Linked DNA regions of Homo sapiens. The protein of the gene in region 1 interacts with the protein of each later gene in a biochemical or structural test. Each region holds a gene or a part of one and is shown on either strand. Other genes may lie near its edges. The genes, in order: IKBKB, MAP3K11 and ROCK1.

Region 1 (3,748 bases):
TTTGCTTTGATTTTTAATAAAAGTAAAACAAAAATAAAAGTGCTGATGAGAAGCATTGGTCTTGAAACATTAACACAATTGAGAACAAGATGAAATATAATTTTTTAGGCACATGGAAAGCAGCGAGTCTTTCACCTCATCTGGACATTAATTGGACCTAAGCTGATCTACTCTGTCACTTAGGAAGGAAATGAAAAGTAAGGAACAGTATGATATGTTGGAACCACATGGTCGAAGGCTGGACTTAAAAGAGCAGATGCAAGGAGAGATCTGGCACCACAGATAGAGCATCCCTAATCCCAAAGTCCAAAATCTAAAGGGCTGTAAAATCTGAAGGTTTTTGTACACTGACATGATGCCAGAAGTGGAAAATTCCACACTTAAGTACTTAACACATTGTTCCATGCACAAAATTATTAAGACTATTGTATAAAATTACCATCAGACTATAAAATCATTTATAAAAATTCAGTTGTTTCATATAAGGTATATATGAAACAAATGAATTTTGTGTTTAAGCTTGGGTTCATTAGGAATATGCCAGTATTCCAAAATCCAAAAAAAAAAAAACTGATCCCAAGCATTTTGGATAAGAGATACTCATCATGTATAGCTTAATGTTCTGAGCTGGAACTCCTTTAATAAGGTGGAAGTCAGTTGTTCAGCTCTCAGTTTGACTCTTAAATATGTTTTCAGCAAATGTTCAGCTTAGAGTCTTTGCAGAGAATGTTTGCTTACTCAGTTTCTGTGGAAGGCTTTTCCGTTACCCTGCACAGAGGGCCGTACCCATGACAGCAGATAGGATCGCTGCCTGGGCCTCAGGGGTCTTCCCCTCCCCGGCTTGCCGAGAGGGAGAGAGAGAGAGAGAGAGAGAGAGAGAGAATGAGAGAGAGAGAGAGAGAGAGAGAGAATGAGAGAGAGAGAGAGAGGAGAGAGAATGAGAGAGAGAATGAGAGAGAAACAGAGAGAATGAGAATGGTGGTGGCGGCGACGGCATACAGAGGGTTCATTGTTAAACCTCTGAATGTTACTGCTTTTGACTTTTTAAGTTTTAAACAAGAAACAGGTCATACCATTAACTATCCCTCTGAGTCAGAAAATATAGACCCAAGAGTTGCCTGTTCTAATGTGGCACTACCATAATTTGTTCTAACATTTCCTAATGACTGTCTGTTTCTAATTATTTCATTCAAGATATGCAGTAAGTATCCTTGGGCTACCAGTGAAGTGATACCATTTGTATCTCTTCTTCTGTGCTTTCTCACCACTTGACATTCTTTGCCCATTTTTCTTTTTCTTTTTCTTTTTTTTTTTAGGTAGAGTCTTACTCTGTCACCCAGGTTGGAGTGCAGTGGCCATGATCTCGGCTCACTGCAACCTCTGCCTCCTGGGTTCAAGCAATTCTCCTGCCTCAGCCTCCCGAGTAGCTGGGATTACAGGGGCATGCCACCACACCCAGCTAATTTTTTTGTATTTTTAGTAGATACAGGGTCTCACCATGTTGGCCAAGCTGGTCTTGAACTCCTGACCTCAGGTGATTCGCCCACGTTGGCCTCCCAAAGTGTTGGGATTACAGGCGTGAGCCACCGCGCCCAGCCCCATTTTTCTTCTGCATTGCTTTCTTATTGATTTATAAGAGCTTTTTATCTATTAGGTATCTTTACTCTTTGGTGTATGTGTTGTAGATATTGTTTCCCCACCTCTCTTATCTTTTGGCTTTGTTTATAGTATCTTTTGCCATAAACTTTGAAAACCTTTTAATGTTATTTGCACTGTTCTATTTATACCATGTGACTTTCCTGCATACACTGCTCTTTTTGCTACATGTATCCCATGGTGTTTTGGAGTTTTTGTTGCTAATGTGAATGGGATTTTTTTTCCTTTCCACTGCAACTGGATATAGCTAACATAGAGAAAAGCTATTGACTTGTGTATTCTTGTTCGTTTCCAGACAACTGGCTAAATTTTATCCAGTGTTTAGTCTGTTGAGCTCTCTAGGCTACATCTCCAAATCTATCTCCATCTCTAGTCATAGCATCTCCAAATAAAAATAATTTTATCTCATTTCAGTACTATTTATTTCATTTCTTTCTTTTATAGTGCAGTGAACTAGATGTCTGTCAAAGTTATTCACCCTCTCTTGAGGGTAAAATCATGTCCTTCTTGCCATCTGAGCTGCAGGCGGGTGCCTCCTCATGTGACATCATCACGTTGCCTCCTCACAGCAGAAGCTCTTGGTATCAAATGCTTCCGTAGCCAGTGTTGTGCAGTCTGCTTTCTTCCAACTAGATTCTGAGCTCTTTAAAGTTGGGGATCATGCCCCTTATTTTATGTCCCTCACAGAACCTCCCAGAGAACTGGGCATGTAGTAAGTCTGTGTAGGGCTGTCTGTATGTGTGGGAGGTGTCCCTGTTCTCCTCTTCTGCCTCCCCGCTGCTTCCTGGAAGCCAGTTCTGACCTCTTGGGACTGTCGATCATATGACCATAGGACTCTGTCCCCAAGGGCCCTTCCTCCTTGCCCACCCTATAGAATTTAGATTTTTGAGCCTCTAGACCAAAGAAACTTCCCTTCTCAAAACTTTATTGGCGTCAGCATCACCTGGAGAGTTTGTTAACACAGATCGTGGGGTCATCCCCAGAGACTTGAATCCAGAGGTCTCAGGTGGAGCCCGAGAATTTCACATTTTGAACAAGCTTGTTTGCTGCTGGTCCAGGTAGTATAGTTTGAGAAGCACTGCTCTAGGCTGCAGTTGGTGACCTCATGGATGCAAGGCAAAGAGTGCTTTGCGCAAGTAAGCCAGATTCCTGTGGAAGTTTAAGCCTCACGTAGCAGGGCCCCTGCCCTCCACCCTGAGGTATTGCGCTACAAGTCAGAGTATGTTTCAGGGGCATGCGGCATTTATCTTTTGCAGGATAGGAGATTCTGTCATGAAAAGCATTTTTTAGGCCTAAGAAAAACTCACCCCCCTCTTCCTCAGCCTCTGCGCTTAGATACCTTCATGAAAACAGAATCATCCATCGGGATCTAAAGCCAGAAAACATCGTCCTGCAGCAAGGAGAACAGAGGGTAAGTGACCTCCTGGGACTGGGAAAGCCTCAGGTGGGCGTGCCGGGAAGTGGCCTGGGAGGAAAGGAGCACACTCTGCATATTTGTGTGTATTTGCATTTCCTTGCCTGTGCTTTGATTCTCTGGGAATGCTGTTTGATTTGAAACAAAATTGAGCAAAAAAGTTGTTGCAGATTGAGGCAAGTTTAAATGGATTACATTGTTAGTTGCTCAAGTTGCAGGAATCTGATAAGGAAAATAATGTTTGCCTTCCTACCTCCACCCCTAGCCTCTGGGACTAGCGCTTCTTGGAAGTCGACTTTTTGTTTTCCATTTGCTTTAAGAGCCTCGCCTCTCGACTCTAAATGGAAACCAGTGGTCAGTTGGTTGTGGATGTGGCTGGGAAGAGGCACTGGGAGCTGGCCTCTGCTGCCAAGCCTGGTCCAGCCTATAGTTTCCCCAGAGCTCTTTGTGGCCTCCTCAGTGGCCACCCGGCTCAGACGTGGTGTTGACTGCCCCACAAGCTTGACATTGTGGTCTTTACCCACCCACTCTATGTGTTCAGCTGGGGTGGTGAGCACAGGCTCAGCTGAGTGGAATACAGTGAATGAGTTCTTAGATCACCTAATCCCTTCCCATACAGCTGCCCTTAGCACCTAGGCCTGGCCTGTGACTACCACAGGGCTCGCCCTTGTTCCAGTT
Region 2 (3,748 bases), on another chromosome or scaffold:
TTCTGGAGGAGCTGCCCATGACGACGGGAGGGGAGGACAGAGCACCAACTCCACGAACATGAATTTAGGGGAGGAGAAGATGAGGAGCACGAGCTTCCAGAGGACTTCCTTGAGGTGGGAGCCATGGCTGGGCAGGATGCTTATGGCCCACCTGAGAGATACCAATTTCTTAACTTGTCCAAACCGCAGCTGCAGGCTGGGGTCAAGGACTTCTGAAGCTGGCGCAGGAAGACTCTGCTGGGTGCCTGGGGCTCTGTTTGGGGGCTAGCTTGAGCCCATGGGCACCCCTGGTCAGCTGGGACCCCCTAGGGTGGGAGCTCCTACCTGCAGTAGACCCTAAGCTAGGCTCAGTGGAAGGTTGGGAGCAGGTGTGTACCAGAGCCATGCCACCCCCAACCATGCCCCCAGAAACTCACTGTTGTTGGACTTGAGATCACGGTGGATGACGGGCACCAGGGCCTCGCAGTGCAGGTAGTGCATCCCACGGGCAATCTGCACAGCCCAGTTGACCAGCACATGGGGAGGCACGCGCCGCCCGGCCAGAGCTCGGCTGAGGGGCCCACCGGCTGCATACTCCATCACCAGGCACAGGTTGGGCTCCTCCAGGCACACAGCCTTGAGGGCAATGATGTTGGGGTGTGCCAGCATGGCGAAGAGCCGGGCCTCCTGGCGAACGCTCTCGGCTGTCACACTGATGTCCTCATCGGGGTCCTGGCGAGCTGCCTTCACAGCCACCAGCTCACCTCGCCAGCTGCCCCTGTACACCTTGCCAAAGCCTCCAATGCCGATCACCTCCTCCAGCCGCAGCTCCTGGAAGCTGGCCACCTCGCAGGGGGGCGGGCCGCCACCCCGAGACACATAGTTGGACGGGAAGATGCCCACCTGGCCACCCACCTGGCCCGCCCACCAGCCCTCGTCTCCTGAGATGGCTGCGTCCCGGGACAGCACCTCCACACGGTCACCCTTCCTCAGGGCCAGCTCATCCTGCCCACTGGGCTCGTAGTCGAACAGGGCTGTCCACACCGGGTTGGCATAACCCGCTGCCTTTGGAGACCCCTCAGGCCGGCCTCCTCCACCGCCCCCACCACCCCCGCTGCCACTGCCATTCCATGACCCTAGAGGGCTCTTGAGGAAGAGGCTCTTCAAGGGCTCCATGGCCGGGAGCCGGCGCTGGGATGTGTGGAGGACCTTCTCTGGGTGCCCGTGGTCCCCACCCCCGCTGGCTGCCAAGGCCCTAGTCCCGGAACCTGGGCATCCGGGCCCTGGCCCTCAGCCCCAGACCCACGCCTCTCTGGGGAGCCAGGAGTGTTGTCTCCCGGCCCCCCGCATCTCGGGCTTCTGGAGGAGGGCACCCAGGGCAGTGTGGTCAGGCCGGGGGGGTGGGGCCCCGGGGCCTCCGGCGCCTCACCATGGCTAGCTTGGAGGGACCCGAGCTTCCCTCGGTTCTGGAGCAGTCCTGGGAGCCTGGCTCCGGCCCCCGCCAAGTGTAAGGTGGGGCCTTCAGGGGCAGCGCCTCAACTCCGGTTGGGTCTTTTTGCGCAGGGGGTGGAGGGAGCGTCCGCAGTTGGGCCGAGACTGCCTGTTCCTGGCCCCGTCTCCTTTGGCCCCGACGGCTCCGACCCCGCTCCCTTCTTCCTCCTCCCTTTGTACTTTGGCCCCGGGGGCGGGAGGCAGAGGTGGAGGGTGGAGTTTCACTTTTTTCCGCTCTTCTCCCTCCTGCAGGAAACAGCATCAGATGACGCGGGCGGCCTGCACCGCTCCCCTCCCAGAGGCTCCAGGCGGGGAGTTCCCGGGTAGGCGGGCCAGGAGAGGCAGAGAGGGAAAGGGCAGAACCAGATCCCCCATCACAGCAGGCTTTTGAGATCTAGAAAGAAAAGCCCCCAGCTGCGTGCTCTGCTGCCTAGGGTGGAGGTTGGTCTCTGCTAAGGATGGGCCATCTCTGCCCTCTGCATCCGCATCGGCGGCAGCAAAACGGGGTTACAGAACCACACTTGGGAAGGGGGTGAACCCGAGTCTGGTCTTGGCTGCGAAGTTGTGGGACTGTGCGATCCATCGATTCTGAGCCTCATTATTTTCTTTCTTTTTTCTTCTTTTGAGACGGAGTCTTGCTCTGTCGCCCAGGCTGGTATGCAATGGCGCAGTCTAAGCTCACTGCAACCTCCGCCTCCCGGGTTCAAGAGATTCTCCTGCCTCAGCCTCCCGAGTAGCTGGGACTACCGGCGCGTGGCACCACGGCCGGCTAATTTTTGTATTTTTAGTGGAGACGGGTTTCACCATGTTGGCCATGCTGGTCTCAAACCCCTGACCTCGTGATCCTCCCGCCTCGGCCTCCCAAAGTGTTGGGATTACAGGCGTGAGCCACCGCGCCCGGCCATTCTTTTCATATATGATATGAGGACGAGAAAGCTCTGCCTCGTAGAGCTAGTTGGATGGGGTGGGGAAGACTGGAGGACAGACGGAACTGGCTGCACCTCAAGCTCTTGGAGTGGATTGCCTAAGGCTCTCTTCTTCTCCTCACCTGGGAAACAATCCGCTTCTTCATATCCCTTCCCCATTGGCAGAAACCTGAGACTTGTCCAGAACTTTGCCCAGGATTGGATTCAGAATAGCTGAGTCGCCCTCACAACTTCTGGATAGGGCTGCCCCAATTGCTTTGAGCCTGTCACTTTAAGAAAGACGACGCTATCCTATTTCGACTATTCCTGCCTGTTACGGAAGGTTGTTCTCTACACCCTAGGTCTGAGCTCTGACCCGGAAGTAGACGCCGCTGGGAGCGAAATCGGTCGTGACGTACGAGGTCCAGCATTAAAGGGGGCGGGCCGAGAGGGGCGTGCTTCGGTAGTGCAGAACTCTCGCTGCTACTAGGGGAGTCCACGCCTCCACCTTTTCCCCGCCTCCTGTAACTCATTGGAAGAGCTGTGCGCCAATTACTTTGCCGTTACCCAATGGCTACTCAACTGTCTCTTTGGTTCCGCCCAGTCGTCTACCCTGGGTTGGCAACGCCTGGGTCTACGCATGCGCCCAAACGCTTTTACGCTCGAACTTGCTTTAGTCCTGGAGTCTGCGCACGCCCAAAGGGCACCCCTCGCGTCCTACCGCGCCATCACCTTTCTGCGCTTGCGCATTCATGCCGTCAAGTTTTCCTTTTCCGGGTCCCAATTGGAATCGTTGGGCGCATGCGCCACTGCAGGCTGGCGGTTCGCGGCTCCTTCTTCCGGCCTCCTCCTTAGGCCGGCACCAGCAGAAGCCGGGCGAGCGCGGAGCCCCAAGCAAGTGACCTGCGACCCCGAAAGTGGACCCCAGATCCTGGGGTTCTCCCTGGTCCGGAGACTAGGGAGCTGTCGCCTGCACCCCGGGAGCACCCACCCCACGACCACCTCTGGATGCCGCCGACGGGTACCCGGCCCGTGCCCCGCGCCTGCCTGCCGGCTCGGCCCCTCGGAGCAATTCTGGGCCAGGAGTGGGGACCCGGACCCCGCCCCTGATGCAGCCCCACCCCCGCGTCCGGGCCTTGCACCACTGACTGTCCCGGCCGGCCCCGCCCCCTGCTCGCACCCTCGCGCGGCCGAGCCCCCCTCCCCCGCTGGGGGAGGCCATGGCGTGAGCGTGAGGCCGGGCCCCGGGGCCCTCAGGCGCCAGACGGGGCATGGGCCGGGGGCCGCCCCCATGAGGGTCCCGGGAGGGGGGGCGCGGGCAGCAGCGGCGGGGCCATGGGGTCGCAGGTGTTGCAGATCCTGCGCCAGGGGGT
Region 3 (3,748 bases), on another chromosome or scaffold:
TTAATCTAATCTACCTGTAGGCAAACCCGCAATAAAAAAAACCCTCAGTGTGTTGTGCCAAAGCAAGGACAGAAAAACAGCAATCTTAACCCTGAAGCCTGTGATATTTGTGTCAAAGAAACAGCCTGTCTGCTCTGCATGGTTAAAGAAGCCTGGTTTATCAGGTAGCATCCCACACGATTCCACAGGGCACTCAGTCACATGGTTAACTGTTGAGGGAGGGGGAAAAAACTAATTTAAGAAATGCACTCAGTTTAAAAATACAAGAAACAAACATTAGGAGGAAAGGTAAATATACATTATCTTTACATAAAATAATTAACAATTACACAAAATTTGGAAAACAAGGAATAGGAAAAATATACTTAGTATTCTCTCCTCTTTGTTTCTACACATTTTCTTACTCAGCTATAATCTCATTTCAAATCATTTTAGATCCAGTTTACAACCTATGCTCAGGAGAAGGCTGACATAGCATTCTACAGAATTAAGTTAGCAGTAAGGTGATAATACCTGGCATAGTATGGTGGCTGAGAAAGGAAAGGATATAAGTCATTTCAAAGAATTAGGCCTGGTTACTGACAATAGGGCATGAACAAAAGGGATGAATTCAAGATGGCTTTAAGCCTGCTTGGAAGATGTAGGTGACATTGGCAGCGAGGCAAATCAGTGTTAGGTCTCAGCTTCTAATTCGAGTGGCCCTATTAATCTAGGGAGTACACTCTAGGGAAGGTGGTATGTGGTAGAATAGAGGCTTTGGAATTGGACAACATAGGCTTTAGAATTGGACAGAAATGGTTTCCAATCCATTGGCTGTGTGATTGAGCAAACTGCTTAATTTCTCTGAGCCTTATTTACTAATGTGTAAAATGAGAACTTAATGAGATGAGATTTCATTATTTCTCTCCAAGAAAGAGTTAACTGCCTGGTGCGGTGGCTCATGCCTGTAATCGCAGCACTTTGGGAGGCCCAGGAAGGTGCATCACCTGAGGTCAGGAGTTCAAGACCAGCCTGGCCAACATGTTAAACTCCATCTCTACTAAAAATACAAAAATTAGCAGGCCGTGGTGGCATGTGCCTGTAATTCCAGCTACTCAGGAGGCTGAGGTGGGAGAATAGCTTGAACCTGGGAGGCAGAGGTTGCAGTGAGCTGAGATTGCGCCACTGCACTCTGGCCTGGGTGACAGAGCGAGACTCTGTCTCAAAATGAATGAATGAATGAATGAATGAATGAATGAATGAATGGTTATGCCTTATAATTGTTTATCATGGCATAAAACATATTTTTGGAAAAAAGTCCATCAAAAATAGTTAAACAGCCAGGCATGGTGGCTCACGCCTGTAATCCCAGCACTTTGGGAGGCTGGGGCATGCAGATCATTTGAGGTCAGGAGTTTGAGATCAGCCTGGCCAACATGATGAAACCCTCTCTCTACTAAAAATACAAAAATTAGCCAGGCGTGGCATGCGTCTGTAATCCCCGCTACTTGGGAGGCTGAGGCTGGAGAATTGCTTGAACTTGGGAGGTGGAGGTTGCAGTGAGCTGAGATAGCGCCACCACTGCACTCCAGCCTGGGTGACAGAGTGAGACTCTGTCTCAAAAAACAAAAAAAAAAAGGGGGTCATGAGTTCACATCCTTTGAAGGGACATGGATGAAGCTGGAAACCATCATTCTCAGCAAACTAACACAGGAATAGAAAACCAAACACCACAGGTTCTCACTCGTAAGTGGGAGTTGAACAATGAGAAAACATGGACACAGGGAGGGGAACGTCACGCACCAGGGCCTGTCGAGGGATGGGGGGCTAGGGCAGGGATAGCATTAGGAGAAATACCTAATGTAGATGATGGGTTGATGGGTGCAGCAAACCACCATGGCACGTGTATACCCATGTAACAAACCTGCATGTTCTGCACATATATCCCAGAACTTAAAGTATAATAATTAAAAAAACATAGTCACTGATAATACCAAATAATTTTGTATGTTGGGATAGTATGGGAAGTTAACAAAAAAGGGAAAAACAATTTTGGTTTTTGTAGAAAAACTATGCCAACACAGTTAAAAAACAGAAAAGATGATGAAAAGTTTTATATGAATTTCTGCATTAAAAAAATTAAGTTGGTTAAAGCATTAAGGGCTAAAACTATGCCATGTACAGCAACTTATGACAATAAAATTAGACACAGAACTAAATAAATATAATATTGCATGTATTATTATTATTAAACTCTAACAAGAATAAGTTAAACTAATTTATAAAGTCACTGCAATTCACATACAAATACCTAAAAATGATGCCCTCTGTGGTGAAAAGCACAATTAGATTTCTGATTTTAATAGCTGTTATCCAATCATTTTCACATTGTTAAAAACGTTAGCATTTCAAATCCTTACCTAGTTTTTCCAGATGTATTTTTGACCACTTTCCGGAAAGACTGATTTGCAGTGGATCTTGTAGAAAGCGTTCGAGGGGAAGCACGAACAAAACCAGATGGTGGATTCTTAGGGATTTTCTTTACTAAATGAGTTACCCATTTTTTTTGTTCATCCTGAGAACATGCTAACAGCAGCATATCTCTTGCTGATGTTACATCATAACTTACTATGTTAAGGAGGAAAAAAAAAGCATAATTAAAGCCATATAGTTTTTTAAAATCCAACCTATCAAATGCATAGTTTTTCAAGTTCTTAAGGTTTTAAAAGTTTTAATATGCTTAATTAAGCATGAACAATATCTCATTCTCCTTAAGTTAAATAAGGCTGAAATTAAAAAAAAAAATTAGTCAAACTAATAAAGTAAAATCAGAAATATAACAAAATGTAAAACAAATAAATGTATTTAAAGAACATAAGCTTCTTATCTGAAAATAGCTATGGTCTGTATTCTTTCCCTCAAGCTACCTCTGTAAAACTAGAAGATATTCTGTGATACAGCATGCATGCTGATCCAGGCAGTGAATGCCAGACAAAAAGAAGAGGAAAAACTCAAGGGAGGAATAGAGTGGAACTCACCTGTTGCTCTTCTCTCCAACTTGGAATAATTTCTTAGCAGCATGTTTGTTTGTTTTTGTTTGTTTACAAGGGGGTGATTCTCTTTAAAAACACTGTTGGCCGGGCGTGCAATGGCTCACACCTGTAATCCCAGCACTTTGGGAGGCCGAGGTGGGTGGATCACCTGATGTCAGGAGTTCGAAACCAGCCTGGACAACATGGTGAAACTCCATCTCTACTAAAAATACAAAATTAGCCGGGTGTGGTGGCACACGCCTATAGTCCCAGCTACTCAGGAGGCTGAGATAGGAGAATCACTTGAACCTGGGAGGCAGAGGCTGCAGTGAGCTGAGATCACGCCACTGCACTCCAGCCTGGGCGAGACAGAGTGAGAATCCATCTCAATCAATCAGTCAATCAATAAAAATAAATAAAAACATTTTTAAAAGCTAAATCTGTAAATAGCTGCATATTGCCCCACCAGTGTCAAAATAATACTTTCTATAATCTCTTTTCAACTTGGTATAGAAATCACTACACATAAGTTAGTTCATTGAGACTTAAAATTAAATTTGTTATAAGTTGTAACAATAATTACCATGCCTTACCTTTACATGGACAAATTAAGTCCTCTTTCTTATCTAAGTGATCTCTGTGGCACTTAACATGGCATCTTCGACACTCTAGGGCAGGGGGTGGCTTAAAAACATGCCAGAGAGGTTTGGCACAGGCATCACAATTGGCAGGAAAGT

Evidence for each region.
Region 2: of the proteins of IKBKB (region 1) and MAP3K11, one has a biochemical effect on the other in vitro, tested with the Homo sapiens proteins (one study listed by BioGRID).
Region 3: of the proteins of IKBKB (region 1) and ROCK1, one has a biochemical effect on the other in vitro, tested with the Homo sapiens proteins (one study listed by BioGRID).

What each region holds. Positions count from the first base shown.
Region 1 is NC_000008.11:42,302,209-42,305,956, forward strand, and holds part of IKBKB (inhibitor of nuclear factor kappa-B kinase subunit beta), read left to right. Parts: intron 1-2,978; coding exon 2,979-3,067; intron 3,068-3,748.
Region 2 is NC_000011.10:65,612,602-65,616,349, forward strand, and holds the start of MAP3K11 (mitogen-activated protein kinase kinase kinase 11), read right to left. Parts: upstream 1,621-3,748; 5' UTR 1,156-1,620; coding exon 417-1,155; intron 1-416. Other genes in the region: PCNX3 (pecanex-like protein 3), read left to right, coding at 3,711-3,748. UniProt on the Homo sapiens protein: Activates the JUN N-terminal pathway. Required for serum-stimulated cell proliferation and for mitogen and cytokine activation of MAPK14 (p38), MAPK3 (ERK) and MAPK8 (JNK1) through phosphorylation and activation of MAP2K4/MKK4 and MAP2K7/MKK7.
Region 3 is NC_000018.10:20,951,179-20,954,926, forward strand, and holds part of ROCK1 (rho-associated protein kinase 1), read right to left. Parts: coding exon 3,605-3,748; intron 2,608-3,604; coding exon 2,400-2,607; intron 210-2,399; coding exon 206-209; 3' UTR 1-205. UniProt on the Homo sapiens protein: Protein kinase which is a key regulator of the actin cytoskeleton and cell polarity.